3 linked regions of the Homo sapiens genome follow. The protein of the gene in region 2 purifies or fractionates together with the protein of the main gene of each other region. This does not show direct contact. Each region holds a gene or a part of one and is shown on either strand. Other genes may lie near its edges.

Region 1 (10,867 bases), on a different chromosome or scaffold from region 2:
AAGACTGAAACTTTTATAACCCATGTTCAAGAATGAATGATGCCAGATAGAATAATGATGTCCTTACAGAGGACTTTCCATGCAGAACTTAAATCTAGCATGAATGAAAGTGTTTGAAATGCCACATTTGCCATTTGAGTAAATTAAAATGTGAAATAATGCCATATCTTACTGTAGACAGCAGTTAAGTTTGACTTTGTCAGATGACCGCAAGGGAGATTTGAACACAATTCTTTAATTCTATACATTTTTATCCAAGTTGTCCTCTTAACTACTATATTTTGTAGGGTTTACAGATTCACCTTATTCACTTAATTATCTACTTAATTATCCACTTGATGCCCATAAATTTCAAAAATATAATAGAAAATGGTTTGGGCAGAAACATTTATAATCTTAAAGACATGCTAAAACTGAAGTCAATAACATGTTAATAACAAGCAAATTCATTCAGTAATTATTCAATATGGCCAGTACTGTACAAGGCACTTGTGGATATGAATAATTAATGAAACTTCTCTAAAAGTTCATCACCTCAAAGGTGCAAAAAGACAAAAAGTGATATAACACAGGTAGAATGTGATAATTACTGTGAAAGCACAAAGTTTCTGTGGTTATTGGGAAACAGAAGCCTTTAGAGAAAAAAAAAATGAGAGTACTTGGAAGTGTTCTTGTGTCAAGAGAGAATTATGGAGAGAAAAAAAGCTTCAAGTAAAATAGTCAACAGGACTTTCAGATGGGATTGCCCAACAGCTCTTCCTACTTCAGTTCCCTAAGAAAACAGAATTTCATCCAAAATAGTGTAGTCTAAGACCTAAATTAGGATGAATCCATGAGGATTCATCAGAGAGACAGATTGAGAGAAAGTCACAGGAGAGAGAGCTGAACTTCCAGGGGAAAAGAACATTTGGTTAAAGGAAATCAGCCGGAAGAAAGAGAAACTAAAGTTAAACTGAGATGAAAAAAGGTGCATAGCATAGAAATGAAGAAACAGGCCAAATGGGAGGCAAAAAGGGGAAACAGGAAGAAGTTGGACCTAGAACAAGAGAGAACAGAGCAGGAGAGTCGTCTTTCTTGGTCTCTCCCTCAGTGTTTCCATAACACTTGGCATATCTCAGATTATTTTATTGTATTAACATTACATGCTTGAATGTATTAACATCATATGCTTAAATGTAATGAAAGTAAAAATTTATTGCAAAGAACTTAAATGTTATTGCATTAGCCCTTCTTTAAAAACATTTCAGCTTTGCACCTAGCAGTTTAAATGCATCCATTCACCTCTGTTTGTAGTTCCTTATAGCACCAAATCAATGGGTAGGTCTAGATAGTAAAACTGCTCCCTGTCACATCCCTAACCTAAGGTACAAACACTTATCCTCACTCTTTCTCTTTGCCAGTTTTAAACTTCACACAAATATATTTTAAAGCAGTATACATTTATGTTATAAGTGGGCTATACCAGGCCTTGTGCAATGCCCTGGGAATCCAAAGGATTGGATTACAATATACGATACAAAGAACTTATACGAAGGACTGGCTAGAAACTGGATCATTTACATTGCTGGAGCATGGGGGTGGGTACATGCAATGGTACAGCACTCTGGAAAAGAGTTTAGTAGTTTCTTACAAAACCAAATATACTACTACCATATGAGTCAGCAATTGCATTCATAGGTATTTATTCCAGAAAAATGAAGTTTTGTATTCACATGAAAACCTGTACCTGAATGTCCACAGCAGTTTTATTTGAATAAACAAACACTAGAATCAGCCCAGATGCTTTTCAACAGGTGACTGGTTAAACAAGTTGTACATCTGTACCAACTAATACTACTCAGCAATAAAAAGGAACAAACTATTGATACATACAACAACTTGGATGAAGCTCCAGGGAATCATGCTGAGTGAAAAACCCTAAGAGGCTTTATACTGTATGATCCCATTTATATAAAATTTTTGAAATGACAAAATTTTAGATTTGGCATTGCCGTTGGTTACAGATAGGGTGAAGAGGGGATGATGTGGGCAGGAGAAGAGTGTATTATAAAAGGGCAACTTGAAGGATGTTTTTGGTGGAACTATACAGCATCTTGATTGTGATAGCAGATGTATGAATTTACACATGTGATAAAATTTTATAGAACTAAATGCACACACACACGAGTACAAGTAAAACTGAGAAAATACGAATAAAATAGGTGGATTATATCAATGCCAATATCCTGGTTGTGGTGTTCAGTGCTATACTGTACTATACATTAATATGTTAAGCTATACTGTAATTTTACAAAGTTGCCACTACTGGGGGAAATTGGGTCTATTGATCTGTGTCTATCCTTCAATAGTACCAATCTGTTTTAATCACGTTAGCTATGTAGTAAACCTTAGTATCAGGTAGAGTGATTCCCCCCACTTTATGCTTGTTTGTCAAGATTATTTTAGCTATTCCAGGGCCTGCGCCTCACTATATAAATTTTGCAATAAGCCTGTATATGTCTATAATAAACCTTACTGTGATTTTGGTAAGAATAACATTAGGCCTATAGATCAATTTGTGAAGGATTGACATCATTATTATGTGGAGTCTTAAAATCCATGAACACTAAGCGTTTACATTTACTTAGGTCTTCCTTGATATTTTGAATGCCATTTTGTAATTTTCAGCATACAGATCCTGTACATGTTTTTAAACTATATGCCTGAGTATTTCAGTTTCTTTGGAGTGATTGTCAATAGCATTGCGCCTTTAATTTCAGTTTCAGCATGTTCATTGTTTCTATATAGAAATGTGACTGATTTTTTGTATTACTGATGAATCTTGTATCCTGCTAATTTGCTCAATGTACTTTTTATTTCTAGGAGAGTTTTCTTTTTTTTTTTTGGATAGGTCTCTTAGAGTTCACTATGTAAACAATATTGTTGTCTCTAAATAGAGACCTTTTTATTTCTTCATATTCAATTTGTATGCCTTTTTTTTCTTTTTCTTACTTTATTGCAGTGGTTAGAACTTGCTGTACTATGTTGAATAAGAGTGGTGTGAGTGCACACCCATTTTCTGGATTTTATGGGAAAAACATTTAGTCTTTTACTGTTCAGCATTGCTAGCTCTGTGTTTTTTGTTGACTCTAATTATCGTTGGAAGGTGTTCCTCTCTATTCCTAATTTGACTTATTTTATTTTATCATGAATGGCTGTTGGATTAACCTAGTTTTAAATCTCTCTTTTTATCTATAAAATCATTACATCCACAAAATACTTATAGAAATTCATAGGATGTACACAAGTCTAACATAATATAAAATAACACGGCACAGCATAGTATAACAGAACATAAAAGACACCGGTAAAATCAGTGTAGGGAAACAACAAATGGAAATCATAAGCAGATTCGTAGGGGAAAACTAAACTGATTCTTAAGCAGACTTTATACACAAAGTTCATAAGTTTCTAAATACTTTCTGGAATTCCATCATGCTACAACTGGATTTGATTCTAATTTTCGCATCCAAAGGCTGACATTGGCTTCATCAAGACCGTCAACCTCATTCAGGCATCCTGTTTTATTCATACAGATATTCCCTGGCCAACCACATTACATAAGCATCAGCAAATGATAGGATAATTTAATTAACTTACTTTCAGTTCATTCATTAACTTCATGCCTGTCCATTTACATCTACCTAAAGAGATTCAGGTTTCAACCTGTAGTCAGGTAAGGACGTTTATGTCAAATACATCATCTTTAACACCTTTGATGTTAACCTTGATTCCAAGTTATCTCTTAAAGCATCTCTCTTAAGGCATCATAAAAATCTACATCTACATCTTTATGGTATTCTCAGTTAGGGTTCGGATCCCAAATCGGCAGAAGAATGACACCAGAGTCCTTTCAGATTGCAAAATTGCCGGTGTGTCAAATACTTAACTTTGACCACAGCGAGTTCACAAAATTGTTATCACGTCAAGTAATCTTCTAGCTACTGAGTTGTTTTTTTTTGTTGTTGTTGTTGTTTCCCCTCAGAAGATACTTGGTATATGAGTCTCATTTGAGAGTAAGAGGGAAATTGTAAGGAAATCTGATTCTTTCTTTAATACAACTGACTGATTTGCCTTCTTCAACTTTGGTGAATACTGTCAGTTAGGGTTGTTCATGTGAACTATTAAATTATTACAGCTTCTAAGCTTTTATGCATCAGTTATCTATGGAAGAAATTAACATACCTTGTCACTATAAAATTGTACCGCTAATGAGAGCCTGAGTACAAAAAAATACCCACAAGTGTACTGGAGTTTTTAAGAACCTGTGCTTCAGAGTCACACAAACCTACATCTGGTCTTTTTCTCCCAAAAGTTGCTTTATGACCTCAGAAAAGTTACCCAGCCTCTCTAAGCCTCCATTTTCTCTGTTCCAATCTAGTAGAAAATAGGTTCTGCTTTATGAGGTTGCTTGAAGATTAAATGAGATCATCCATGTAAAACATTGGCATAGTGTCTGGCCCATAGGGGTAGTATAAATGTATAATGTTGGCTATTATTATTTCTAGAGTCATTTAAGATTTTTATTACAGCTTGGATGTAGTAAAGAGTTTGAAGTGTTTTCCATAAAATGTGAGTGCCCCTCCTGACTGTCCGTACTGTATCCTTTATGTACACTACAGACACTGGTTCTTAGGAATTGTTTTGACCTTAGTGAAGTTACCTGGATGTGATGTGTATTACAATTGTGAAAATTAAATGTATGTTGTATGTAAAATACCTGGAACAATACCAAGTACATTAACACTTAATAAATGTTAGCGTGCTGCTTCCTTTGCTCTTCCTTTCCTCCAGAGATCATTATTTCATTCAAACAGAACCAGTCAGATAGTGAAGTAGGGAAAAAGACCAAAAAATAGGGGTAAAATTAAATTATATTCATTTTCCCATTGTAAAAACCACTTATTTAATTATGGCTCTGATGCTCATATTTCTCACAAACATCAGTTAACATATTGACATATCATAAAATCAAAGATTTATCCTAATAAAGGCTAAACCACTTGTCAAATGTTTTCATAGTCTGATCTTATTGACCTTACCAAATTAATGCTTACTTAAATCTCATTGGAATAGATTGTTTTATCTTCTTGAGCAACTTCACACAACAGTGTTTCTTTTTAAAATTTTTAAAGGAATTGGAAAAAGCAGAAACAAAAACAGGCCGGGCATGGTGGCTCATACCTGTAATCCCCAACAATTTAGGAGGCCAAAGCCAGAGGACTGCTTGAGGCCAGGAGTTTGAGACCAGCCTGGGCAACATATGGAGACCTTTTCCCTACAAAACACTTTTTTGAGAATTAGCAAAGCATGGTGGCACGCACCTGTAGTCCAAGCTGCTTGTGAGACTGAGGTAGGAGGATCGCTTAAGCCCCAGAGTTTGGGGTTACAGTGAGCTATGATTATGCCATTGCATTCCAGGCTTAGCAACAGAGCAACACCCTCTCTCAAAAAAAAAAAAAATAGACTAAAAAAATTGTTAATTATTAGCAAAATAATGTATTACATACAGTATTTTAGCTAAAAGATCTTTGTGTAGAAGACTGTTGGATTGATACATAATTGAAATGAAAATTTCTGACTTCTTTCATATCAGAAATTCTGCCTTAATCCTTTCTCTTGCTTGATAATTGAGGTGCTGTTGTTCACTGTTTTAGGAAAGGAGTGTTCCCAGGATGAAAGCACAGCTGCTGCCATCTTCACTGTTCAGATGGATGACTATTTGGGTGGCAAGCCAGTGCAGAATAGAGAACTTCAAGGATATGAGTCTAATGACTTTGTTAGCTATTTCAAAGGCGGTCTGAAATACAAGGTAAGCAGCTCCCTCAGTTTCCATTATGAATCCCTTTCTCCTCTTGTCCATCCATACCTCCTGTCTTCATAGAATGACAGTTCGTTGAGGGCAGGGGTTTTTGTTTTATTTGCTTTTGTTTTAATCTGTTTTGTTCATGGATATATCCCCAGTACCTGCTGGATACAAAGTAGGTGTTCAATAAATGTTTGTGAAATGTGTGGTACAATATGTGAAATATTGTGAAAATTTAATTTGATAGGTTAATTTTTTAAAAGAGCTTTCAGTTGTGTCTTCACAAGATACCTTTGTAATATTTTGTAGCTATTTCAACATTTAAATTTTGGTAATTTGGGTCTTAAAAGTTTTCATTTTTGCTATTCTAGAAAATCTCTGAAGTTTCTGCAAGTAACCTAAGCCTTCAAAATCTCAGTTGTTCTGGAATATATTAATACAGTATTTATAATAATTATAATTTTAGTAACTGTAAAGAACTATACATGTATTTCCAAAATAGTGTGGTTTGATCTTAGAAGGGATGCAGATGAAAATTTTGAGCTTAAAATTCTGCAGGTAAACTACACACACGCACATACACAATTTATGCACACTGGTCTGAAACACTGATCAATTGGCTTTACTTCTGAAAATAAACAAGAACAAATAGTTAAATGGTTCTATCCCTTTAAGGCAGCCTTCAGTATAGGACAGGTTTTTTTTTTTTTTTGGCATCCTCCTAGTTAGCTTTCCAGACTGGCCCTCCCTTCACCATTCCTGCCACTCACCCCTCCACACGTGTTCAGTTAAAGTGTGAGGAATACCCTCCCCAGACAAACATCACAGATTTCCGAAATCAAACACGCTCCAGCAAGTGTTCTGCACACCCCACTGCCCTGCCCTGTGAGCATGCTACCCTAGTGAAGACCTGAAACCTTAGAGCTTCACTACAATTCTGACTGTAATACTAAGTCCGCCTACTAAGATGGCGAGGTTTATTTATACCTTTACCTGTTCAGAGTCTTCGTTGAATATTTTGTGATATTATTGAGATCAGAACAAAACACTTATACATTATAGGTTCTCTTATGTCTCTTGAAATGATTATTTTATTCTAGGCTATGAACTACCCTAAATACAAAACTATTACCTCTCATTTTATTTGATTCACAGGAGCTCCTACAGTTTATGACAAACGATACTGAAACTTCCTTTATGTCAGTGAACTCAACATTTTAAATAAATTGAGTCTTGTAGTTACTAAAAGCAGGTGCTGTGACACCATCATAGTTATGAACCCATTTCTGCCACATATGACTTGTTTGCTTTAGGGAAAATACTGAGCTTTCTGTGCTCAGTTTCCCCAAACAATGAATATTATAACAGTTTCCTCATACAGGTGTTGTATTAAGGAATAAATTAAATAATAAAGTAACTGTAGTCGAGCATGGTGGCTCATGCCTGTAATCCCAACACTTTGAGAGGCCAAAGCAGACGGATCACCTGAGGTCAGAAGTTTGAGACCAGCCTGACCAATATGGTGAAACTCCCTCTACTAAAAATACAAAATTTAACTGGGCGTGGTGACATGCGCCTGTAACCCTAGCTACTAGGGAAGCTGAGGCAGGAGAATTGCTTGAACCCAGGAGGCAGAGGTTGCAGTGAGGCGAGGTCATGCCATTGCTCTCCAGCCTGGGAGACATGAGTGAAACTCTGTCTCAAAACAGGAGTACATAGATGAAAACTTGTATTTATTTAATTATATAATACTTAGTTTATTCAACCAAGAAATGTAGCAGTCGTTGTAAAATTATGGACTGGGAAATCATTTTATATTTTTTTTTAATTTGAAGTTTTAATTGTCCTGAAATTAACATTTAATCTATACCAACTTTTATTGGAGAACGGTGGAAATTTAAAATCAATGGAAAAGAATGTGCTAATGACAAATTAGCTCTAATTTTCCGTACCATTATTATTATAGAGGTCTTTGATCTATCAGTGACAGTTTTGTTTATACTGTAGCTCAGTTATTCACATATAATTAATTATAATTAATAGTAGAAATAAAGATATGGTTCATATCATTTAATTAGAAAAAATGAAAAGGTAAAAGATCATTGCAAATAATATAAGAAGATGTAGTTGATACAGTTAATATCTTTCTTTAATTCGGGTGATTGTATTTCATTTTATTTTATTTTTTTTGTTTGGGGATGTACAGCCAAGATATTGCATCTCTCCTAGCTTACAGTAAAAACACTCAGGCCTAGCATATTTATTAATAGTAAGACCTGTTTACCAGAAAATAAAGAAGACATTTGATTACTTTAAATGTAAAAACAAGGACCATACATAAGATCAACCCATTCCTGGCCAGCACTCAACAACCATCTCTGTCCCAACCCTGTACCAGTGTGAACTTTTGGGTGCCTTCTTCTCTGGCTGCTGTCATCTGTATGTGTTACTTCTGACCCTCCTCTAGCCACCTGTCACCTTCTTCCCTGAAATCTTTGCCTTGCTCATTATTGATTTGGGGATCATTAGTGTCCAAAGGGCAAGAGCTATGGCATCTTCTTTTTGTTTTTGCAGCAGCGTTTTATACACTGAAGGTTCTCAGTAAATACTTGCAGTTGTCAATTGAATGGTTAAAACAGAAAGAATAAAGAGACCAAACAAACACAATCTGTTGATTACCAAGGGGTTCTCTCTTGTTTTATGGAATAGGTGGCTATTTTAACTTGGCCTGACAGGTACAGTTTTGGCACAAACACCAGCAGTATTATTGTGCTTTGCTTTGTCTAGGCAGACACCTCATCAGTTTTCTCTTTGTTTTTTGTGTGTCTGTCTTCCCTCATTCATCAGGCTGGAGGCGTGGCATCTGGATTAAATCATGTTCTTACGAACGACCTGACAGCCAAGAGGCTCCTACATGTGAAGGGTCGTAGAGTGGTGAGAGCCACAGAAGTTCCCCTTAGCTGGGACAGTTTCAACAAGGGTGACTGCTTCATCATTGACCTTGGCACCGTAAGTTTCATATATACACATCGATGTCTAAAGAAAAGTGAATTGCTTTCGGATCAAATCATATGTACATGTCATTGAAAAGAATCACTTTTTCTACACACCAGAAAGGGGCCACGTTTATGTGAGCTGAGTAATTGCCAAGTATTTAAATGACGCATGAAGTGAGACTTCAAAGTTTTTATTTTCTTTGATAGGTTTAGAATAGTGATTTAGTTCTTCCTACCATAGAACAGAAATTGACTAATTTTTAATACATTTCCCCTTCTCTCTGAACAGAGCTTCCTCTAATTATTTTTGTCTCTAATTGTGCATGGGAAAACATAGCTTGAGGGGGAAACTGGTTCCCCCAGCAACAAAAGGTTCTAGAATATAATATGGACATAAGATGAATCTAAACAGCCACCTAAAGAATTTTAAAGACATATTTTGATGTACGTATATACACACACCATACCATTTCACACTTTTCAATTAGCACAAGTACAAATATCAAGTATTATCTTAATGGCATGGGCAATGGTATATTATATCTGACTTATGTTTTCTTCCTGGAAAAGACGCTCCTCTAATATCAGGTATACTTATTAATCATTACTGTCATGACAAAGAAGCATTATTTCAAGACCCTTTGCTAGACCCTAGAAGGTAGAATATAAGTTGTGTCTTTAAAACTTTGTGAAGTTTTTATAATAGAAATAAAGAGCATTTCCCTCCACTGAAAAGCCATGTGCAAAAGCAATGAAAGCAAGAAAGCACAGAACTTATAAGGCTCTCCTCTTCCTGCTTTTCATTATCATCATTTTCATCACACCATACATCTCAACATTCTAATTATCATTCCTAACATTTCTGGGCCAAACGTTGTAACGGAGTCATGAGCTGACCTGCATTGCTTCAGTTAGCATGAGGCTTGTCTATGGAATTTGCTCAAGGTTGCAAAGTTAGTAAATGGTGAAGGCAGGATTAGACTCTCAGCATATCTGATTCCCCACGAAGCATTTTGTTTTATTGCATCTACTTGGGCAGTATTTTGGGATAAAGCAGTAGACAGAAGCCAAAAGAGCTTATTCCATCTGCATAGAGGAGGGCACAAAAGATTCTGAAAATAGAGTTACAAAGTTCTGTTTAAGCAATATTAATCTAACAACAGTACAGAGATTAAATGTACTAAGGTTATACATTGTTTAGAAAATGACCCCAAAGTATAAACTGCATCAGTTTCTTTAAGTGAGCGTGCATCTATAGTTTTATTACTACTTATACATAATCCAACTGTCTTGGATCATACCAGCTTGTGTGCAAAGTTGAGATCACAATAATATAAATGCCCAAAGTACAATTCTTAATATTACACGTAGACATCTACACCCTAAATGGCAGTACCTTTGCCCTGAATCTCACAATAAATTTCATGGGAAAGTCCTTTTCAACTTCAATAGCTAATTCATTCTCCTAACAGATTTAAGTCCTGACTCTCATATCTAGGCAGAATACACATACTGTTCCACCCTTCCATTCTCCCCTACCGCCACCACCCCCTACACTATAAATAAAGAAATAAATAACTCGTGCACATAAATGTCTACAGCCACACAGTTCCGAAAGCAATTGCAGCATTCAGTCTCTCAAACCTTATGCACAATAATTTTCTATCTCAACTTTCATCTCCACCACTTGTACTCTAAAGCCCTTTATAAGTGCTTTTGAAAATAAAATGGCATTTTTATTAGAAAAAGGAGACCTCAGTTCTCATTCCAGTTGCTGTACTCTGAGGTTCTCATCTGTAAAAGCAAATATTTGAGTAGGTGATCGCGAGGGTCCCTTAACCAGAAAGGCACTTCCCAGTGATAATGTAATTAATTGCTGCCATTACTTGAAAGTATTTCTTTTCTTAAAAAAAAAAACTTGTTATATATAATGTAATTGCTATGTAAATATAATAATCTATTCAATTATCATGAATAGCTTCCAATTCAGCTTTCTAACTATCTGCTATGATATTGGGCAACTCAT
Region 2 (11,265 bases):
TCAATGTATTACAATATATTAACAGAATAAAGGGAAAAACAACCCACAGGACCCTCTCAACAGACACAGAAAAAGTCTTTGATGAAATCCAGCACCCTTTTGTTATAAGAACATTCAACAAAGTGGGAATAAACAGGAACTCCCTCAAACTAGCAAGGGATGTTTACCAGTGAACACCATCCAGAAAGTTAAAAACACACACCACACACACACACACACAATGGGAGAAAACATTTGCAAATCGCATATCTAATAAGGCACTTGTGTCTAGAACATATAAAGAACTTTTATAAATCAATAGCAATAAAACAAATAGTCCAACTGAAAAATAAAGTAGGCAAAGGATTTGAATAGACATTTCTCCAAAGAAGATATAAAATGGCAAGTAAGCACATGAAAAAATGTTCAACATCATTAGTCATTAGGGAAATCATTAAAATCACAATGAGATACCACTGCATATTAACTAGGATGGCTATAATTTTAAAAAGACATTAACGAGTGTTAGCAAGGATGTGGAGAAATTGGAATTTTCACCCATTGCTGGTTAGAATGTAAAATGGTGCAGATACTTTGGAAAACAGTTTGGTGGTCCCTCAATATGCTTCATATAAAGTTACCATATGACACAGTAATTGCACTCCTAGATATATACCCAAGAGAAATAAAAATATATCTGTACAAAAATTTGTATATGAGTGTGCATAGCAACATTATTCATAACAGCAAAACTGTGGAAGCAGTCTAAATGTCCATCCACTGATGAACAGATAAACAAAATGTGGTCTATCCATGCAATGAATTCTATTTGGCCATAAAAAAGAATAAAGTACTAATGTGTATTACAACATGGATGAACCCTAAAAATATTATAATTAGGGAAAGAAGCCAGTCATAAAAGACAACATGTTGTATGATTCCATTTACGTGAAATATCCAGAATAAGCAAATCTAGAGAAGACAAAAAATAAATTTGTGATTGCCAGAGTCTGGGTGTGTAGGGGGAATGAGGAATGAGTGCTAACATGTCTGTGGTTTCTTCTGAAGTTTTGAAAACGTTCTAAAGTTATAATAGATTGGGAGATAGTTACACAACTCTGTGAATATACTAAAAACCATTGAACTGTGCATTTTAAAAAGGTGAATTTATGATATGTGAAATATGTCTTAACAAAACTGTATTTAGAGAGAGAGAAAGAGAGAGAATGGTTTAATAAAGCTCCAACACTCAGCTTCAACCATTATCAACTCATGGCCAATCATTTCATCTATACCCCACCCCACCACTCTACCCCGTCTCCCACACTCGATAATTTTTAAAGTAAATTCCTGATATTATTTCTTCTGTAAATAATCAGTTTATCGCTCCAAAAAGTAAGGACTCTTCAAAAAAATAATCATGATACTGTTGTCACATCAAAAAATTTTTTAAAATAACACCTTAGTCCAGGCATGGTGGCTCATGCCCGTAATCCCAACACTTCGAGAAGCCAAGGCAGGCAGATCACTTGAGGTCAGGTGTTCGTGACCAGCCTAGCCAACATGGTGAAACCCTGTCTCTACTAAAAAAAAAAAAAAAAAAAAAAAAATACGAAAATTAGCCGGGCTTGGTGGCACACGCCTGTAGTCCCAGCTACTTGGGAGGCTTAGACATGAGAATTGCTTGAACCCGGGAGGCAGAGGTTGCAGTGAGCCGAGATCACGCCATTGCACTCCAGCCTGGGTAACAGAGTAAGACTCTGTCTCAAAACCAACAACAACAACAACAACAACAAAAACTGTAATGCCAGCACTTTGGGAGGCTGAGGCAGGCGGATCACTTGAGGTCAGGAGTTTGAGACTAGCCTGACCAACATGGAGAAACCCCATCTCTACTAAAAATACAAAATTAGCCAGGCGTGGTGGCGCATGCCTGTAATCCCAGCTACCTGGGAGGCTAAGGCAGGAGAATCGCTTGAACCCAGGGGGTGGAGGCTGTGGTGAGCCGAGATCACGCCATTGCACTCCAGCCTGGGCAACAAGAGCAAATCTCTGTCTCAAAATAATAATAATAATTTTAGAAAACAGACCTTAATATAATCAAATATTCTGTGTTCACATTTTCCCTAATTGTCTCATTAATGTGAATTTTTAACAGCTGCTTTCTCAAATTAAGATCACACATTACATTTTGTTATTTGTCTCTTGAATTTCTGTGTATCTATAAGCTTTCTCTCCTTTTATTTTTCTTGCAATTTATTTATTGAAGAATCAGTTGTTTGTCATGTAGAGCTTCCTATATTTTGGATTTTGCTGATTGCATCACTGTGGTATCATTTAACATGATCATGATTACATAGTAATTAGCTTTTAGATGTTTGCTGTCAATTATACTACACATACGATTTAATTCATAATTCATCAACATAGTCACTGCTCCTTTAGTCTTTATCATCCACCATATCCTTTGAAGCATCTTTGACACAAATTATCTCAGTTAGTCTTTCTAATAACCCCATGTGGTAAGTATTATTATCCTCAGTTTAAGAGATGAAGAAGGCCGGGCCCGGTGGCTCACGCCTGTGATCCCAGCACTTTGGGAGGCCGAGGCAGGTGGATCACAAGGTCAGGAGATCGACACCATCCTGGTCAACATGGTGAAACCCCGTCTCTACTAAAATACAAAGAATTAGGCGGGTGTAGTGGCAGCACCTGTAGTCCCAGCTACTCAGGAGGCTGAGGCAGGGGAATCGCTTGAACCCAGAGGTTGCAGTGAGCCAAGATCGCACCACTGCACTCCAGCCTGGTGACAGAACAAGACTCCGTCTCAAAAAAAAAAAAAAAAAAAAAAAAAAAGATGAAGAAAATGAGGCTTAAGGGAGGTTACAGAAACTTGGCCATAGTCATTGTGCCAGTAAATATCTGGGTTCAAACTCTCTGATGTTAAAACCCATGTTGTTATCTGTTATATGATAATATCCCATCACATTGCCTGTGGTTTGTGGTGGTTGTTTTTAATCAACTCTAGGAAGCAGTCTTTCAGTCCATCCAAAGAATGTACTTTCACATTTCATCTTTAACACTTAGGATGCTTTCAGCTTCAAGTAACAGAAAACTCCATCTCAAATTGACTCAACAATAAGGTTATTTATTATCTCATATAACAAGAAATCCAGAAGAAGGGCAGCACTGGGGCTGGTTGATGACTGACTCAACAACAATATGGCCGACCCAGATTCATCGTATCTCTTTACAATGGCCAGAACTGGGTCACATGTCCACTCCTAAACTCTTACAGGCCAGTTAAGAGGATTCTATTCCTCTTGTCTATGATAGATTTGAGAGTGTACCTCTCAGAGGCTAATAGGGTCACCTTTCCTAATGTGTAAACACCCATATAGGCTTCTATAAAGAAGAAGAGGGTGGACTGAATGTTTAATAGACAACCAACAGTGTCTACTACCTGTTCCTAATGAGGTGTGCTACATATTCCACTGTGAATAATTAAAATACTTCATTATAACTGCCACGTTGAACTTTTTTCCTTTCTGCCATTTGACAATTACAGTCAATATATCAGCTTCCTCATTTACAGGAAGAAATGGCTACACAAAATGATATGTAAGGTCCCTTCCAGCTCCAGGAGTTCTGTTTCAATTTTACATTTTCATCTTCTAAAAAGCAAGTAGAAAAGTTAAACTTACAAGATATGGTCCAGAAATGATCATGGGTTTCAACTGATAAGTCATAGGCATATTGACATCCTTTCTTCCTTAAGATAAGACATAGGCAATAGATTTAAAGAGCTAAACAGACTGGAACTGGTAATATCTTTCCATTAAGTTTTAACATTAGGTTAAATGTTCTACTTCCCTCACTCATCCTTTAACACCTTCCAGCTTCCAACACTCATCATACAGACAGAGACTGATCAGAAGTTTCTTTTCACAACTCACTTTATTTTGGTGTCAGCATCCTCCTGGAGCATGGCTCTGGGGCTGTAGGATAGCTCTTGTATCTCTGCTTCGACTGCCGAACATGACTTTAACTTAAATCATTCCCCTGTCTGCTTCCTTTCATGGCTAGTTTCTGAAGGAATACTCTATTCGTTTTATCACATGCAGCCATTTTCCTCGTGCAGAACCACGGGAAACCAAAGAGAAATACTGTACACTACTGAGCACCTTTGCTACTCTTTCTTCCAATATGAATGAAATTGCTTTATTATTTTCAGCATATGCCTACTATCAGCTTTCTCTGGGAAAACTGCTGGCTCGATCCGTAAGCAGCCCTGTTCTTATTTAACAGAAGGCTATGACTGTAACAAATGTACAACATAAAAAAGTCAAAGGCATCCTGTCGGTTACACAGGACATTCGGAATAACAAATGTACAGGAAAACTTGGGAACATGACTTAAAGTAATTTGGTCACACCCCCATTTCATTTAACTCTTTCTGGCTCAGATTTGTCATTCTGACAGGAGGCCCAAGATATAGTCCATTACCACAATTGATCATAGAAACAACACTGGTCTCTCAGTCAGCAGCCACTGCGTGCCAGTGTTCATCATGCTAGTTCCCAGAGTTTTAGAGGATTAACTTTACTTTCTGGTTCAACCCATCTGCTGGGGAAGGTATGGCCCTATTTTGCAATGTGCAAAAGGGAGACAGTGCTGGGGGTGCCCACAGTGGAAGGAGAGAAGACAGGCTTACTGAACACCCCTATGACCTTGAATAAGTCACATCACCTCTCTGTGCCTCTTATTAACTATCATTGGGGAAAAATACCTTCACTCTGCCTGTCTCACAAGGGTTCTTGTAAAAATCAAATGAGAACACAAATAGGAAAGTATTTTCATAAATGCAAACCAGTGTTATCATTTTCAGATGTGGAATTTCCTCTGCAGCACGTTTTTTTGGCCACACGATTACTGCACACCTCGTGCCAGACAGACTATAAAGCTGTTTCACCTCTTTTCACATTTTGCCTAAAATTTCATATAGAGATTACACCAGCCATGCTGCATCCATCCCTTTGGTTCATTTTCCTCCACTACATCTGTGAATGCAAATCCCACCATCATGTGAAACACTGCATAGCAGCAACTTGCAAAACTCAACGAACCTTAGACTGCCAAGATAAGTCCCATAAGCAAAGGTTATGCTCAAAATATGCTGCAAAAGTTCAAGAAGGAGAGAGATATCACATCTAATTAGAAAAGGCCTCTGGAAGTTAAATCTAGATGCCATGTATTTTCATAATGTTGGTCTTTGTCCTATGTCACCCCACTCTGCTGTCATGCTTCAGAAACTTGACTTTATTTTCTCTATCTTTGGAGCTCTCAAGAACCTGGCAGACAGAACATCTCAGGGTATATTCAGGGATGAAGTGAACGGGCTCAACGACTAACAAACCCAGTGGATTTTAACATTTACCCAGCCCAACGAGGTCCAACTATCTTTAGGTTAGCACGACATATAGGACTTTCCCGGCCCAAGAACTCCCTCGGAAACCCCAAGGAAGGAACTTTCACTGAGTATGCACTAAGTGCCAGATCCTAAGTGCTATGGGTCGCTTAATCCTCACAACACTTTTTCAAGCTTGAAGCCTGTTTTACAGATGAGGACGCGAAGGCTCAGACAGGCTAAGTTGTCCGGTCTCACCTCAGTGAAGCCGCCACTGCGCTTGGGCTCTCCAGCCCCTCACGCCATCACCCTAGAGCCTTGCTAACTTCCACCTCGCTTACCTCCTTCCCTCCCTAGGCTGCCAACCCAACTACTCTCTCCTCCCACGCCCACGCCCAGCCAGGAAAACCTGGGGCGGGCGGGGTCTGTACCTGAGACCGCTCTCAACGCGGCTTCCGTGTCAGGATGCTCGCTCACAGGAATGCTCATCACAGGCTTGAAAGCCTTTGCCATCCACGCTCTCCGGAGCCCCGAGCGTCTCCAAAGAGCCTGCCCAGGCTTCTCCCCGACCCAGGTGCTTCCTCCCCTGCAGAGCTGTGGCGGGGTTCAGACCCCGATTCCGGGAGAGGACACCTGTCGGGGAAGGGCGGGGCTGGGGGACTGCGGGGCCGCGGCGAGGCTCAGCCGGGAACTACGCTTCCCAGCCTGCTCCGCTGCAGCCGCGCGCCCCGGCGCCGCGCCCGGCCGGGAGCCGCCTGTTGATCGCCGCGCTCGCCCCGGCCACGGCGCCGCCCCTGTTCTCCCGGCCCCGCTCCACCGGGGCTGACGGACTGACGGCCAGCACAGCCGGCTCCGGGATGAGCGCACGGACGGGTGAGCGCCCCGGGGGGCGGGTGGGGCCTGTTCTGGACAGCCGGTGTCTGCAGCCCCCGGGCCCGCAGCGCGGTGGCCGCCGTGCCCTCCCTGCCCGCGGGAGGATGCTCCGCGACATGGGCGGTCGGCCGGGCGGGCGTGCAGAGCCGGGCCGCCTCTCGCCTCTCGCCTCCCGGCCCGGTCGGCTGCGCCGGGAGACCAGGCGCTGCGCCCGGGCGGGAGGCGCCCGCCGGGGTGTGAGTCCCGCGCCCCGCACTGCGGTGCCGCAGCCTCTGCAGCCCGCTGGGCCGCAGCGGGGAGGGCGCGGTCTCCTGTCCTCCCGGGCTGCGGGGCTGTGTTCTTCCACTCCGGGCTTTGTTCCCCCACTTTTCCCCTTCCTGTGCATGTTTGGTGAGCTCCTGGAGCGGTATGCATCTCCCTGCCTCGTTCAGCAGGCGATGGGGAGGGGTGGACTGGCCGGCGTCTTTCCTGAGATCGCTGGAGCTGTCACTCGCAGGGCGTTTCAGCCTCCCAGTAAGCGGCCTCGTGCGGATCCTCGAGAACCTTATTATTATTGTTATTACTTTTCTGGTTAAAGTAATTGTAGTATGTGCTCCCTTGAGGCTTCCTAAATGTTCCCTGTTGACCTGCGGAAATGAAGGTGGATTTTTAAAACAGTAATAAAAGGCTTCTAATGGGAATTTTTAGAGTATTCAGAGGTAGGAAGGTGATGCCGTCACAATGCAAATTAGCAGTGAAGGAGGCCGTGCTTACTGCAGCTTCGTCTGTGCCCATTACATATCTGAATCACGAGGCATTTAGGACGGGAATGAAAAGAAGATCGGGGGAGGTGTTTTAAAAACCAGGTTCTCCTCTTAGCTTGACCATTCAGGAGCTGAGGGACCTGGGCAAGTCCCTCCACCTCTCTGGGCCTCTGCATGTAAAGGGGCGTTTGGGCTAAATGATTTGTAAACCTCTGTTCTTCCAAGATTCTCCCCTCTCAGGGAACTGAAAAGATGAGAGTGTTTCTGTTTAACAGCACTACAAAAAGCCTAATTGTGACAACAAGCGCCTCTACCCTAGTGAGGAGGAAAGATTTTTCAGAGCTTCAGCAATCTGATTTTTTTTTAAAGATAAAACTGATTTTCTCGATCGACTCTCTTCAGTCTAACCCAATAAATACGCATTGCAATCATTTTAATTTTTGTAAGGTACTGTACATTGGTGGGCAACAAAATGATGGGGTTTGTTTTTGTCTTTAATTTGCTGAAGGTGAAGTGATGGGATCAGCAGATAAAGGATTAGTGGCTCCCTAGGGCTGGGCACGAGTGGTCAAATGTGGTCAGCATGGAGGTCGGGGAGGAAGCCCCAGCAAGAAGTAACCAGAATGTGTATACACAGAAAAGAGAAGTTGCGTACTGATGGATCATTGTTTGAAAAAGAAATATGCAATAGAAGGAATGAGAGAATCAGGAACTCGGCGCTCTGCAAACCTAACATAACAGTTGAATAAGGCAAGGACTTACCAACTGGTCCAAAACCTTTGAGTGAAAGGTGGTTGGGGAATAGGATTTTCATATTATTTCAAAGTATCTCACCACAGTTTACTCTGGGAAAATTTGTCCTTACAATGGAGAAATTAGGAGGTCACCACTGGAACCAAATGACCAAGTTTAGCAGCATCTACTGCGAGTCTCCCGTTGTGAAGCAATAAGGAGGCATAATTTCACCTCTGTAGTGTTCCTGCAAAAAGACTTGGCGATGGGGCAGAGCAAATGGGAGCAACTATTGTAGGTTAAAATACTCAAGTGATACAATAGTGAATTGGGATGTGTGAACTTTGAATCCTAGATGCAAAAAAAAAAGCTATAAAAGACAATTTGGAGATAGTTGGGGATGTTTGAATATGGATTGCATGTTAGATGATATTATGGAATTGGTGTTAATTTTCTTAGGTGCAATAATAGTTCATTCTTGTGGTTACCTAGACCAGACAATCCTTATTCTTTGGAGATGTGGATATTGGAGGTGAAGTGTCATGACATCTGCAACTTTCAGCTGTGTCAGAAAAAAAAAAAAAAGGATAGGGGTAGCAGAACAAGTTCAGGAACGTAGCAAATGTGGCAGAATGATGACGGTTGGTGAATCAAGAAGAAAACAAATGTTTATTGTACTATTCTTTTAACTTTTCTATAGATTTGAACTTTAAGAAATGGGGAAGTCAATAAAATAAATAAGCGAATAAAGAGAAAGTGTTGTAGAAGACGGGGGTGGTTCGTGACAAACAGCTGCAGTGAATCTGTGGGGAATTTCTTGGCTTCACCTTCCCAAAATTGAAATCACCTATTGGAGGTGTGAGTGGGGGGGACGGGGGGTTGGTGTTCCCATTTTTGGTTTATCTTGGCTACTCTCAATCATTTATGCTTAAGTACCCCATCCTCTAGCTTCAACTTCAAAGTATTAGTAATTCTCCATACCTAAGAAATTCTAGCCCTACCCAAGAACCATCCCGAAAGTGCTGTCCCTTTCCTCTCTGTGTCCGAGATCTGTGTCAGTGTGTAAGGAAGTTTGAGAACATAGGCAGTGGTTCATTTTATTTTGGGTTAGGGTAGTGTTGGGGGAAAAATGATTTAGCTTTGTGATAGGATAGAAGTTTTGGGGTTTCCTCTCATTCCCTTGTGTGTAAATCATATACAACCAAATGTTTTCCTTATAGACTTTAAGTGGTTCAAAGAGGTTCATAGAAGGCATGTGCAGAAGAGACTTCCTGTTACCAGACCACGAAAACAGAATCAACTCTTACAACACTTAATCTCTTACACGGAATCCCTTGCTGCAAAGATATTTTTGCTTTACCTGGATTATATGTGTTTATGTATACATGAAAATACTAATTTAAAGTATACATATTTACTTGCATGAATGTCTGTGTGTACTTGTGAATCTCTCAGTCAGTATTCCCCAAAATACATAGAATGTTAATGGGTTACAAGAAAAAGAAATTGCCTAGCCAGATGTGGAAAACACTAAACAAAGCTGGACAAGTTGGTTTATTCTTGACTTTTCAGAGCCTTTCATGGGTTAATGATCATTGTATATGGGGATGTAAATGGGGTGGGAATGTCCATAGGATGTGATATGTAATGTTTCCCAAACTGTGTGCAAAAATAAAAAATGAAAAATATCTTGAGGGGCTATCGTTACATGGAACCACCTTTGAGAAACTGCCTTTAATGCATTTTTGAGTGAAAGGTCAGGACATATGATTAAATGTGTAAGTTGTAAGTATTTGTGCTTCACATTACTTACAGATTAGAATTCAAATTTCAGTTTCTGGTTTTAATGGATCATAACAGTTTGACCCCAGTCTACTTTTTCATCCTAAATTTCCTAACTTTCTTCCTATAAATTCTCCTGCTTAGTCCTTTGTTGTATACTATGAACCATTTTTATTTTCAGCACACCAAAAAGTCAATTCTACGTAACTTTAAGGCTTCGTGGTTGTGTAAAATGAGATGCGCTCTTCTGCTATGGCTCTTCCATGGACTGAAATAGCCACCTTTCCTCCCAAAGCCATTTTGAGTTCCTTGGCCTTGGTCCCATGTTTCAGCACAACCTTCCTTAAAGCTGTGATTTCTTGCTATTTCTGCTTTTATGATTTGCCATCCTGTTTTGGCATCAAGGCTGCCCCACTAATTACCTCTTTCACATGTGTCATCACTATTCCTAGGTTCCCCTGGTGAGAGCTAGGTAGGGTGGGGATGAGAAAGTCAACTCCAGGACTGTGAGTGGCAGGAGCTCACAAAATAGGGCACAAGGCCAGCCATGCCAAGCCTGGACATGAGGAGAAAGGAGACAAGCTGGGGCACAAGCCCTAAGAAAGGACCAGGAGGTCCCTCATCAGAGTGGTTAGAGGAGTGTGGAGTCCAGTGAGCTGGGCTGCTATTCAAGCGGTGTGCATGGGGACAACTGTCCTCATTGTTGATAAACAACCATTCTGACTGGGCAGTGTCCCTTCTATACCAGTTGCTAAATGTTTTGCACATCATCTAGGTAAGCACTCACAAGTCAGGGTGCATACAGCATCCATAAGTCATTACAAAACCTGGATCAAAACCTAGCTGGTATAAAATGCCAAAGAAAGAGACAAGATGAGTGAGTCAAAGACCACATAAGCAAGCAGAAGAAAGGAGGGCACATGAATCAAAGGACAAAAAGCAGGAAACCCGGTGCCAATCAGGAAGTTAGAAGAAGCCCATAAGTTCCCAAAGGCAAGAGGAAGGACATGGTTAAAAGCAACAGGCAGTTAAAACCCAGAAAGGCGCAGATCTCCAAGTGGAAGGCAAGGAGATAAATAGAGGTCAAGCAAGAGGAACTCCTCTAAAAACAGAAAAGAAGGCCAAACACAGGGACAAGACAACAGCGGGAAATAGGACCCGCCATGAGAATTAGAAACCAAGAGGCAGGCTGGGCAGACAGCAAGACTTTTTGGCTTTTTGACTGCTTCCTACCCAGGTGGAAATCTATCTCATAGCTTGGCTAGCTTACACTATGGTGGCTTTCTACACCTGGCAATGCTGACCCGCAGCTCTTACAGGTTTTGCCTCTTTATATTCAGCAGATCTTGATGGGGAAAACAGAGGGAAAGAACACCTAAAACACGAGATTATTCCACAACCAAGGACGAAAGAGAAATAGCTTTGACTGAGGGCTTGCGCTTGCTAGACACTGCGCCTAATATGTACATGGTCACCTTAAGTGTCACCTCAGCCTTCTGAGATAAGTACTGTTCTTTGCATGTTTTACTGAGGAAGGACCAGAAGTTTGGAGAGGTTGTCACTGCACACATATCTGCACCATCAGACCTTGGGTTGGTTAACTCCAAGGCCCGTGCTTTTAGTCTTCTGTGTTCTTCTAACCTTGGACAGGAGCAGTCACTAGTGGGCACCTTGTTTTTCAAGTATGATTTAATCTTTGGCAAGTTTGTGTTGTAAGATTGGGAAATACGAGCTCTGCATTCTAGTAAG
Region 3 (10,867 bases), on a different chromosome or scaffold from region 2:
TTTGCCTTTATTACTGGTGCAATATTAACATTTTTGTTATTTAACTCTGAGTGCTCTCACTATTTTAAGGTTATTTCTTCAGTAGTCTATTATACTTAAAGGAAGGGGTCATGCTTGCTTGTTCATTGGTTTATTCCCAATGTACAGTGACTGATTGGGTCCTTTCAACAAGTACACCTTTATAGCATTTGTTATATTTATAGCACAAATATAATATAAAATACAAATTTGCTTATATTTATTTCACATATTTTCCCAATTTATCCTTTGCTTTTTAATTTTTGTTCTTTTAACATACAAAACCTTAAATTTTATGTAATCCACTTCCAGAGATAAATTAATTACACATTTTTTTTCTTGGTTTTTTAACCTTTAAGTCTGTAATGCAATTGGAATTTGTAAAGTAGGATTTAGCATAAATATAATAAAGAATAAGTTAGAATTTAATTTTATTTTAAACACTCTTGGGAAGTTTTTCCAATTTGCCTTGTTAAGTAATCCATCATCCTTTCTTCATTGACTTGCGCTGTCTTCTTTATTATCTATTAAGGTTTTATTAGACTAAAATCGGTTTCATGGCTATTTTTACTTCCTTATTGACCTATCAGATTTTATTCTATAACAAACCATTTTAATTATTATAGTTTCATATATTTTAATAATTTGTAGGATAAATATCGAAACTTTTCTTTTGAAAGTGTTCTTACAAGATTCTGTCCGTTTATTCTATTCTTTTTTTTTTTTTTTTTTTTTTGAGACAGGGTCTTTCTCTGTCACCCAGGCTGAGTGCAAGTGGTATGATCCTGGCTCACTGTAGCTTTGACCTCCTGGGCTCAAGCAGTCCTCCCACCTCAGCCTCCTTAAGTAGCTGGAACTACATGCATGTACCACCACATCCAGTTAATTAAAAAAGTTTTGTAGACGCAGGGTCTCACTGTGTTGCCCAGGCTGGTCTGGAACTCCTGGGTTCAAGTGATTTCCCAACTTGGCCTCCCAAAGTGCTGGGATTACAGGCATGAGCCCCCGTGCCCAGCCTTCCAGATTAACTTTTGAATTAAAAACAATCCCATTTAGGTACTTGACCTCTGTGCCCGCTTGGGACTCTTTGAAGTGTACTTTTCTTTCTTTTCTGCTCTAAAGCCTTTTAAAATAAATTACAAACACACACACACCAATTCCATTGGGATTTTGATTGGTATTGCTTTCTGTAATAAGTTACCTGTCAGTTTTCATCAACACTTTAACATCTTTCAGCCTTGATGGTAATTTCTTCTTTCTTCCTTTTTTTTTTTTGAAACAGTCTCACTGTCACCCAGGCTGGAGTGCAGTGGCGTGATCTCAGCTCACTGCAGCCTTGACCTCCCAGGTTCAAGCAATCTTCCTGCTTCAGCCTCCTGAGTAGCTGGGACTACAGGTGTGCACCATGCCTGACTAATTTTTGTATTTTTTGCAGAGATGGGGTTTTGCCAGGTTGCCCAGGCTGGTCTCGAATTCCTGAACTCAAGGAATCTGCCCACCTTAGCCTCCCAAAGTGCTGTATTACAGACATGAGCCACCATGCCCAGCCTGGGAATTCCATCTTTCTATATCCGACCTCTCTCTTTTTTCATGTTGAATTTTTGAAATTTTCTTTTTTTTTTTTTTTTTTTTTTTAATATTTAGCTCTATACTATCTATTCTGTGTTTTGGAGTCCTGATTATTGTAGGTTGACTCTCCTTCACCTATTCTCCAATTACTTAAGATTCTATTGCATTTGTATAACCATACTCGGGTATTTCACAAGTTTATTTTCATTTTTGGTTGAGTTATCTGTAAGATCATATCTGCTTTGTATGGCTTCAGGCGATATTCATCATTGTTCAGTTTCCATTTTCTTATTTATTTATTGGTATTTTTTATTTACTTCTATTTATTTATTTATTTATTTATTTTTTATTTTTTTTTGTAGAGATTGGGTTTTGCCATGTTGCCCAGGCTGGTCTTGAACTCCTGGACTCAAGCAGTCTGCCCACCTTGACCTCCCAAAGTGCTGAGATTACAGGCATGAGCCACCGAGCCCCACCTCAGTTTCCATTTTCATTAGAACTGAATTCATTTTTATCTTGAGCCTTTCTTATTTAATTATAAATGTATTTTTGAAATCTGAGTTTCATCTGTTATTTAAATACTAATTATTTTTCAATCATTCCTTAATTATTTTTGAAATTTAAAAATTAATGAATTTTCATTTCAGGCTTTCTTGCTTTATTTTCCTTTCCAAAATGCTTTTATTTGCAGATTTTGTTTGTTCATAAATTAATTTTTCTATAATGTTGATGAACTAAGATTTGCTGGCATTGAAAATTTTTATTATAGGTTATTGTATTGGCATTTAATGAGATTTGAAAGAAGGAAGTTCCTAGTCCTATTAACCCCTCTTCCATTTTCCAGAAGTTCTGTGTTATATTCCTAGAACCACTTTATACAATGCTTGACCCATCACCATATGCAAATAGCTGATTAAAAGTTATTTGACAATGACATTTTTCTTCCCTTTTAGGGACTTCACTGTGACTTTGCTTGCCTGATGTTCCAATACTTAGTAAATAAGCCTTCAGAAGAAAGGGTCAGGGAGATCATTGTTGATGCTGTCAAAATTGAGCAGGTAAACCGGGAAGTTTGTGTAATTAGCACATCTCTCTTTCTCTGATGTTTGTACCACTATTATATTGACTCATAAGAAATTCTGTAGGTCAATAAAAATACCAGCAATTTTATTCTGGTCAGCCTGACAATACCAATACATGATATATTACAATTATTATGTCAGTTTACAATTTGCTTTAGTAAGTCAGTCTTTATTATATATTAAGGTTTTATGTATACTAAAACCTGTTTCAGGGCTATTTTTCTGTCTTATTGATCTCTGTCAAATTTTATGCCATGATCAGCTAATTATAGTAGCTTTTTTTTTTACATTTTTAGTGACTGGAGAACAGTGATGATTTTTTATTTGTTTTGTATTTTTAATAACGTAGCAAGGTACCTAGCTTGAAGCATACACAAATTTTTATAGAATGAATAAGTAAGTTAATGAAAAGTAACAATTAAGTTAGGGTATGTACGGATTTCTTACTAGAAAGAGCTAGATGCGCTACTTAGGATGTGTTTTTATCATTCTGAAATTGCTTTTGTTTTGGTAACACTGCGTAGTTTAACAGGCGTAGTTTGTATATTGAAAGAGGAAAAAGGCATAACAGGTACTTTGGTATCTTTAATCATTTTGAGAACTAAATCCAAGTGGTTAATATATTTTTATTTTTCCTCTATTAACGCTTTACCACTATATAGTCTTTCAGTATGGTTGGAGCTATTTTATCTCCCAACCCCCAAATCTGTTTGTTTCTTTTTTCTCATTTTCTTTGTTAATTGAGTTTTTCTTTCTTTCCCAGCTCCCTTCCATAGTCATGTTCTTCATGATGATCATCTTTGAATCTTTTTCCAGATATTTTAGAACAAAGTATCTTTTTTTTCTATTGAGAAAGCATACGAATCCGAGTCTTATATCTGCTACTTCAAGAAATCCAGTAATTTGGTAGTTCGTTTCCATTTATTTTGGCTCTTCGAAAACATGAAAAAATGTGAATAGTTAATACCCCAAATGTTTTTAAATATACGGACATCATTTGCCACATTGAAAGAATTTATCCTAATATACTTTCCTTGGACAAAATCAGTCTTAGAAATAAAACGAAAGTCCTCTTTCTATTTGGAAAATACATATTTATAGTTTTGTTTGTACTTTATTCTGTTTTTGTTTTCATCCCAGGAGTTTTTAACAGAAGCCTTGCCAGTTGGCCTCATTGGAATGAATTGCATTTTGATGAAACAGTACATTGAGTTTGTAGCTGACAGATTACTTGTGGAACTTGGATTCTCAAAGGTAATGTGTTTAAAAATGTGTTACTACTAGTTAAAATATTATAGGAAAGCAAGGACCCTAAAGTATAATTTACTGAAAGCATTTGTAACATACTATTCTATTTTTTAAATGTCAATGACAGAGACTTGTTTTGTATGAACAAGGTTTTGCAAAATCCTTTGAAATTTAAAATTAATAACTGAAGTAGGAGGCTGGTAAAATATTAGAACTAATAAGCTCAATAAATTATTTTGCAATAATTGTAGCTGTATATTTAATAGGATTATTTTCAAGGAGTTAGGTTTAATATGCATATATATATTCACCCTCATATAAATCGCCATGTGTCTATATTGTGGTTTGGGAGTTAATACTTTTAAATAGGGAATAGTTATTAGGAAGACATTAACTGTCACAATATAACTCTTTGAACAGAGTTATTCAAGTTATTTTTGTCATTTATCAGAGATAATGTACCTGAATTTCATCAGTGCGGTTTTCCCATTACTTAAGACATGGAGCCTGCAGCCACACTATCTGGGTTTGAATCCTGGTTCCACCACTTTCTAGCTGTGTGACCTTTGGCAGGTTGCTTAACTATCTCAGTTTCCTCATCTATAAATTAGAGATAGTAATAATATTTACTACAAAGGATTGTTGATGAGTTGATACACTTAAAGCACTTAAAATAATATTAGACACATAATAAACTCACACTAGATGGTCACTTTGTACTTAAGTGAAACACAGAAATTCACTATGTACTATACCATGGTAATTAGAAATACAGATTTTGATTTCTTGTCATGAAAATGTAAGTTCAAATTATCTTTAATGAGAATCCTTATGAAATCTATGATGCTGTGGTAATCATTACCTATCTTGCTAATGTTGTATTAGCAGATATAGCAGAATTATATTCTGATAACCACCCAGGTACTTAATGAAAAAGTCAAGTGGGGCGTAGGTTTTTTTGGTAAGATAAACTACATTTTAACATTTTAGTTGCAAGATCCTCTCTGTGTTTACTAATTAATGAGAAATCAAGATTATAACTATATTAATATAATCTCTTAAACTTATAAACTATGTATATTAAAAGAAATTGTGTTTGTTCATAACTTTTACCAATATTTTTGTTATTAGAAAATGAATTTGCTTATTTAAGCCTTACAGTGAATTCGCTATTCTTTAACCCATTACCATATCCTCACATCCACACGTTCATGTTCTGCTGCTTATTAGAAAACTGCTGACCCTTGGGTCTAATTTTCCTTTTGGGAACTTGCTAACTGTAGGTATGTAAAACATGCCACCTCCTGCAGGAGAAGGTCTAAACACAATGTAAAACTTTGTTTTTCCACAGGCTTCAAAATATCTGAGTAAATTCTAAAAAGCAGAAATTATAGAGGCCTTAGATTTTTAATGCAATGAAAGTAGAAACTGATTTAAAAATTGCCAAAAAGCTTAATCTACTTAGAGATTAAAAATATATCCGTTAGGCCAGGTGCGGTGGCTCACACCTCTAATCCCAGAACTCTGGGAGGCTGAGGTGGAAGAATCACTTGAGTCTAGGAGTTTGAGACCAGCCTAGGCAACATGGCGAAATCCTACAAAAAATTAGCCAGGCCTGGTGGCATGCCTGTAGTCCCAGTTACTTGGGAAGCTGAGCTGGGAGGATCACTTGAGCCTGGGAGGCAGAGGTTGCAGTGAGCTGAGATTGTGCCACGGCACTCCAGCCTGAGCAACAGAGTGAGACCCTTTCTCTCTCGCTCTCTCTCTCTCTCTCTCTGCATATACATGTATCTCCTTTAAAATGAGATTTAAAATGAAAATAAAAATTAATTGAAAATATAAAGTAAATGACAATATGATTACTATGTATCAAAACTTGTAGGAGCTGGGCCTTGTGGCTGACTCCTATAATCCCAGCACTTCGGAGGCCAAGGCAGGAGGATTGCTCGACCCCAGGAGTTCCACACTAGTTTCAGCAATATAGCAAGACCCTATCTCTACAAATAAAAATAATAATAAGGCTGGGCACAGTGGCTCATGCCTGTAATCCCAAAATTTTGGGAAGCTGAGGCAGGTGGATCACCTGAGGTCAGGAGTTCAAGACCAGCCTGGCCAACATGGTGAAACCCTGTCTCTACTAAAAATACAACAATTAGCTGGGCATGGTGGTGGGTGCCTGTAATCCTAGCTACTCGGGAGGCTGAGGCGAGAGAATCGCTTGAACCCAGGAGGCAGAGGTTGCAGTGAGCCGAGATTGTGCCATTGCACTCCAGCCTGGGCAAAAAGACCGAAACTCTGTGTCAAAAAAAAAACCCACCAAAAACAAGCCACTTAATTTAGTTTGTTTTTTTGGTCTTGGTTACTTTGTCCATGCCATGAATGACTTAGATCTAATTTTTTGAAAAGTCTTCAGTTCTAACATCTAGTGAGTCTATGGCTATTGGTTCAGTGCCCTTTCACTGTATCTTGCTGTATATTACAGCTCCAATATTCCCTCACTTTTTACACACAATTTCTGATGGAGAATTTCATAGAATTTCACTCAGCCACACCCAGCATATGAGTTTTTGGAAAAAAGATACATAAATATTTAAAGCTTTATTTAAAGATTAAGTCACATAGCATGCAATTCACCCATTTAAAATGTACAATTCAATAGTTTTTAGTGTAGTCACAGAGTTGTACAACCATCATAACAACCTATTTTAGAACATTTTTATCACCCCATAAAGAAACTGTATCCCTATTAGCAGTCAGTCACTCCTCTTTCCTCCCCTTACCCACCTTGCCTTAGGCAACCACTAATCTAATTTTTGTGTCTGTAGATTTGCCTATTCTGCGTCTGTAGATTTGCCTATTCTGCATATTCTATTTCATACAAATGGAATCATATAATATGTGGCCTTTTGTGGTTCTCTTCTTTCCTTAGTGTGTTTTCATGGTGCATTCATGTTGTAGCATGTATCAGTGCTTTATTCCTTTATATGACCAAATAAATAATATTCCACTGTATGGATATACCAAATTTTATTTATCCATTCGATGGACATTTAAGTTGTTTCCTCTTTTGATCTATTGTGAATAATGCTACTATGAACGTTCATTTACACATTTTTGTGTGGACATGTTTTCATATCTCTTAAGTATACACCTAGGAGTGAAATTGCTGGATCATATGGTAACTCCATGTTTAATCATTAGAAGAACTACCAGACTGTTTTCTAAAGCAGCTGCACAATTTTATATTCCCACCCTGTATGAGGGTTCTAATTTCTCCACATCCGCACCAACACTTATTACCTGTTTTTTAAAAAATTATAGCCATCCGAGTAGGTGGGAAGTGGTATCTCATTGTGATCTTGATTTGCATGTCTCTAATGGATAAGGATGCTGAGCATCTTTTCATTTTGTATATCTTCTTTAAAGAAGTATCAGTTTGTCTATTTAGACACTCTGCCCATATTTAAAATTGGGTTACTTGAATATATGTTTATCTGTAGTGTTCATATTTTTTGCTGGGATACTCCTAAATTGAGAAATCCTCTTTTGTTACTCCTTGTGAATCACTGAAATATCCCACAGTTTCCATCAAGCTGTATCTCCAAGTCTGCTTCTTGAATTCTTTTTTTTTTGAAATGGAGTCTTACTCTGTTGCCCAGGCTACAGTGCAATGGCATGATCTTGGCTCACTGCAACCTCTGCCTCTCAGGTTCAAGCAATTCTCCTGCCTCAGCCTCTTGAGTAGCTTGGATTACAGGCATCTGCTACCACGCCCAGCTAATTTTTGTACTTTTAGTAGAGACAGGGTTTCACCATGTCAGTCAGGCTGGTCTCAAACTCCTGACTTCAGGTGATCCCACCTACCTCGGCCTCCCAAAGTGCTGAGATTACAGGCATGAGCCACCATGCTCGGCCTTGTTTCTTGAATTCTGAAGCAGTAAAAAAGCTTCTTGTTAGCATAGTCCCCCTTTTTGTTTGGAGACATCTAGTCACTATGGATAACATTTATTCTGTCTTCCCTGATCATGTTCCCTTAATGACAATTTGTTGATTATCTGTTCTCTTATAAACTAAGAAACATACTTAGAACCACAGTGGATTGTTGCTAATTTAACATTTTATAGTATCATGTATGTCTGACTAATAGTAATATCTATGAAAAATGCTCATGGTGTATTGGATATCTCAAGCTGTGAGAACATTTTCTATTGGTTAGTATTAAATATTTCAATTCCTGAAATAGTTGTGTTTTTTTTTCTATTTATTAGAATACCAGAGATGCTAGTACAGTTTCTTGAGGAGATTAGTGGTTGATCTTGGGTCATCTTAAAATTTGTCAGCCTTGAGTACCTCCAGGGTCTTAGGGGAATGATATGATCTTGTAGCTGACTAGATAGGTTTTGAGAAACCTGACCTCTGTTTTGGTCATCTTTGCTCTTATTGTGGATGTAATTTGATCTCTTCAGAATGTCTAATAATATTTCTTTCCTTTTTAGGTTTTTCAGGCAGAAAATCCTTTTGATTTTATGGAAAACATTTCTTTAGAAGGAAAAACAAATTTCTTTGAGAAACGAGTTTCAGAGTATCAGCGTTTTGCAGTTATGGCAGAAACCACAGATAACGTCTTCACCTTGGATGCAGATTTTTAAAAAACCTCTCGTTTTAAAACTCTATAAACTTGTCATTGGTAAATAGTAGTCTATTTTCCTCTGCTTAAAAAAAATTTTAAGTATATCCTTTAAAGGACTGGGGGTTTGCTCAAAAGGAAATCCAAAACCTATTCTAAACAATTTGCATTTATATAATTTTCCTGTTTAACAACAAGAGTGTGACCTAAATGCTTTTGTCTTGTCACTGAAATAAAAGATGGCATTATGTGGTTAAGAGCATGGGGCGAGGGGTCAGACATGAGTCTAAGGTTCTGCCCTTACTCCAGTGTGTGACCCTTGGCAAGTCAGTTAATCTTGGTAAACCTCGGTGTACTTATCTTTAAAATGGGAGTAATAGTAGGTCCTAAATTCATAGAGTGGATATTAGGATTAGGATGCAAAAATAAATGCTTAACCAACACTACTACTGTTAGCACCACTACTAATTATCATTCATTGATAATATTAATTGCAATGATGTTGTAATAAAATACTCTCATTTCCTTAAAATAATTGTGATTCTAGGTCCTAGGATCTAGAATTAGATCTTTGTATTTTTAATGCTTAGGGGAAGAATATAAGTATCTCCTTAAAAAGAACATAATTCTCATTCACGCAAGAATAAGTTCTTTGAATTCCTTAGTATGTAGTGAAGAAAATTTAGTTGTTAGTTGCTTTGGGAAGCCTACTTATGGAGTGGAAACCAGGAGGTTATCATGGTAGTTGACCTTATAAGAAAAATGATTCTTCTTCAGAAATTAAAAACATAACTATTGCCAGATTTAGCTCTGGAATGTTTAGAATCAGGCTAGAATAGCATTTTCCAAAGAATATTCTAAGAGCTATTAGCTCCTCTAGATATTTTTTTGGGGGAAAAAGGGGATTCTGTGGTCAGATGAGTTTGGGAAATGCTGAACACTTCATTCTTCTTTAGCAAGTACAGTCAGTACATCAAAGACTGAGCAGTTCAGTGGTACATAAATTTATCTCGCCCTGCATATTCCCAACATACTTAACACAGATGTTTTTTACCTGTTAACATCTCACCCAGCTAGTGTTCCTCAGAACAAAGATTGGAAAAAGCTGGCCGAGAACCATTTATACATAGAGGAAGGGCTTATGGACTGAGAAAGGGAGAACATGGTAGGGATTATTGAATCATTTCAAATTTATACCAGCCTGAATAGTGTACCAGCAATTGACTTAGGCTGTGTTTCTTTATGGTTTTAAAACTCTTGAGCTGTTATAAGAGATAGTTCTTTTAATGTGACTATGCAACATGATAGCCAATGGTGAGGGAAAAGGAGGTTTCTCTAGAAGAGTCTGATGAAAGGCCGGGAACCAAGGTTTTTGAGAAGTCTGCCCCTATTTATTTTTAGTAAGTATCAAGAGGTAGCCTGAGCCTAGTTAGAGTTAGACCTGTCTTTGGATGAAGAAGTCTTAATACTGAAATACTGAATTTTTAATACATTATTATTTGGTATTCTGTATACCCCTTCAAGCAGTTGTTTCCCATTCCCAACAAACTGTACTTTATACAATTCTGGATGCTAAAACTTAGAGATTTTCTCTTTGCATAAATTTTGGCTCCATTCTTTCCATAACAATCTAATCAAAACTGGGAGTTCTCAAGTGAATGCAAAAGGAGCAGGCCATAACTTTATTTGTTAGATACACTGTCAGAAACTTGAGATCTTTTGGCCTATGATAATACCATTAATTTTTGCATTGCTTCAGTTTGCCAAGTGTTTTTACATCATCTCATTTGATCTCAAAACAGCTTGACAGAGCAACTGTTATTGAAATATTACAGATGGAAAGAATGAGGCTCAGGGAAGTTAAATGACTTGGCCAAGATCTGCTCATCGTCACTGTCTGTACAGTATTTTTTTTTAGAGGTTGTAATGTCTCAGATTTAGTCCTTTACCATCTATGTTGATTTGCTTTTGTCTATTTCCTCATTAATTGAATATACTTTAAATATATATATTAAAGTATCAAAATATAGAGAGACATTTGAACTGTATTCAGGTAATATGTTTAAAGATATTTATATATTGCCATACAAAAACTTAACATTTAAAACTGATAATATCTGTAATGACATCAGAATGAAAGAAAAAAAATTGTACAGTGTATATTCCTTTGTTTTGAATCCAAATCTTTTTCATAGGTAATGACAGATGCCTTAATGTGAAGCTTATTTATAATAGCAATAAACCTAACTGGATTTGGATGAAGAAGTCTTAATACTGACATACTGGATTTTTAATGCACTGGTTTGTTATTTGGTATTCTATC

Evidence for each region.
Region 1: the proteins of TMOD2 (region 2) and SCIN purify together in Homo sapiens (affinity purification with mass spectrometry; 3 studies listed by BioGRID and IntAct, with this or other methods). This does not show direct contact.
Region 3: the proteins of TMOD2 (region 2) and RRM2B purify together in Homo sapiens (affinity purification with mass spectrometry; 3 studies listed by BioGRID and IntAct, with this or other methods). This does not show direct contact.

What each region holds. Positions count from the first base shown.
Region 1 is NC_000007.14:12,572,368-12,583,234, forward strand, and holds part of SCIN (scinderin), read left to right. Parts: intron 1-5,696; coding exon 5,697-5,851; intron 5,852-8,692; coding exon 8,693-8,854; intron 8,855-10,867. UniProt on the Homo sapiens protein: Ca(2+)-dependent actin filament-severing protein that has a regulatory function in exocytosis by affecting the organization of the microfilament network underneath the plasma membrane.
Region 2 is NC_000015.10:51,745,454-51,756,718, forward strand, and holds the start of TMOD2 (tropomodulin-2), read left to right. Parts: upstream 1-6,143; 5' UTR 6,144-6,259; intron 6,260-11,265. UniProt on the Homo sapiens protein: Blocks the elongation and depolymerization of the actin filaments at the pointed end. The Tmod/TM complex contributes to the formation of the short actin protofilament, which in turn defines the geometry of the membrane skeleton.
Region 3 is NC_000008.11:102,205,832-102,216,698, reverse strand, and holds part of RRM2B (ribonucleoside-diphosphate reductase subunit M2 B), read left to right. Parts: intron 1-2,540; coding exon 2,541-2,645; intron 2,646-3,809; coding exon 3,810-3,923; intron 3,924-8,413; coding exon 8,414-8,566; 3' UTR 8,567-10,867.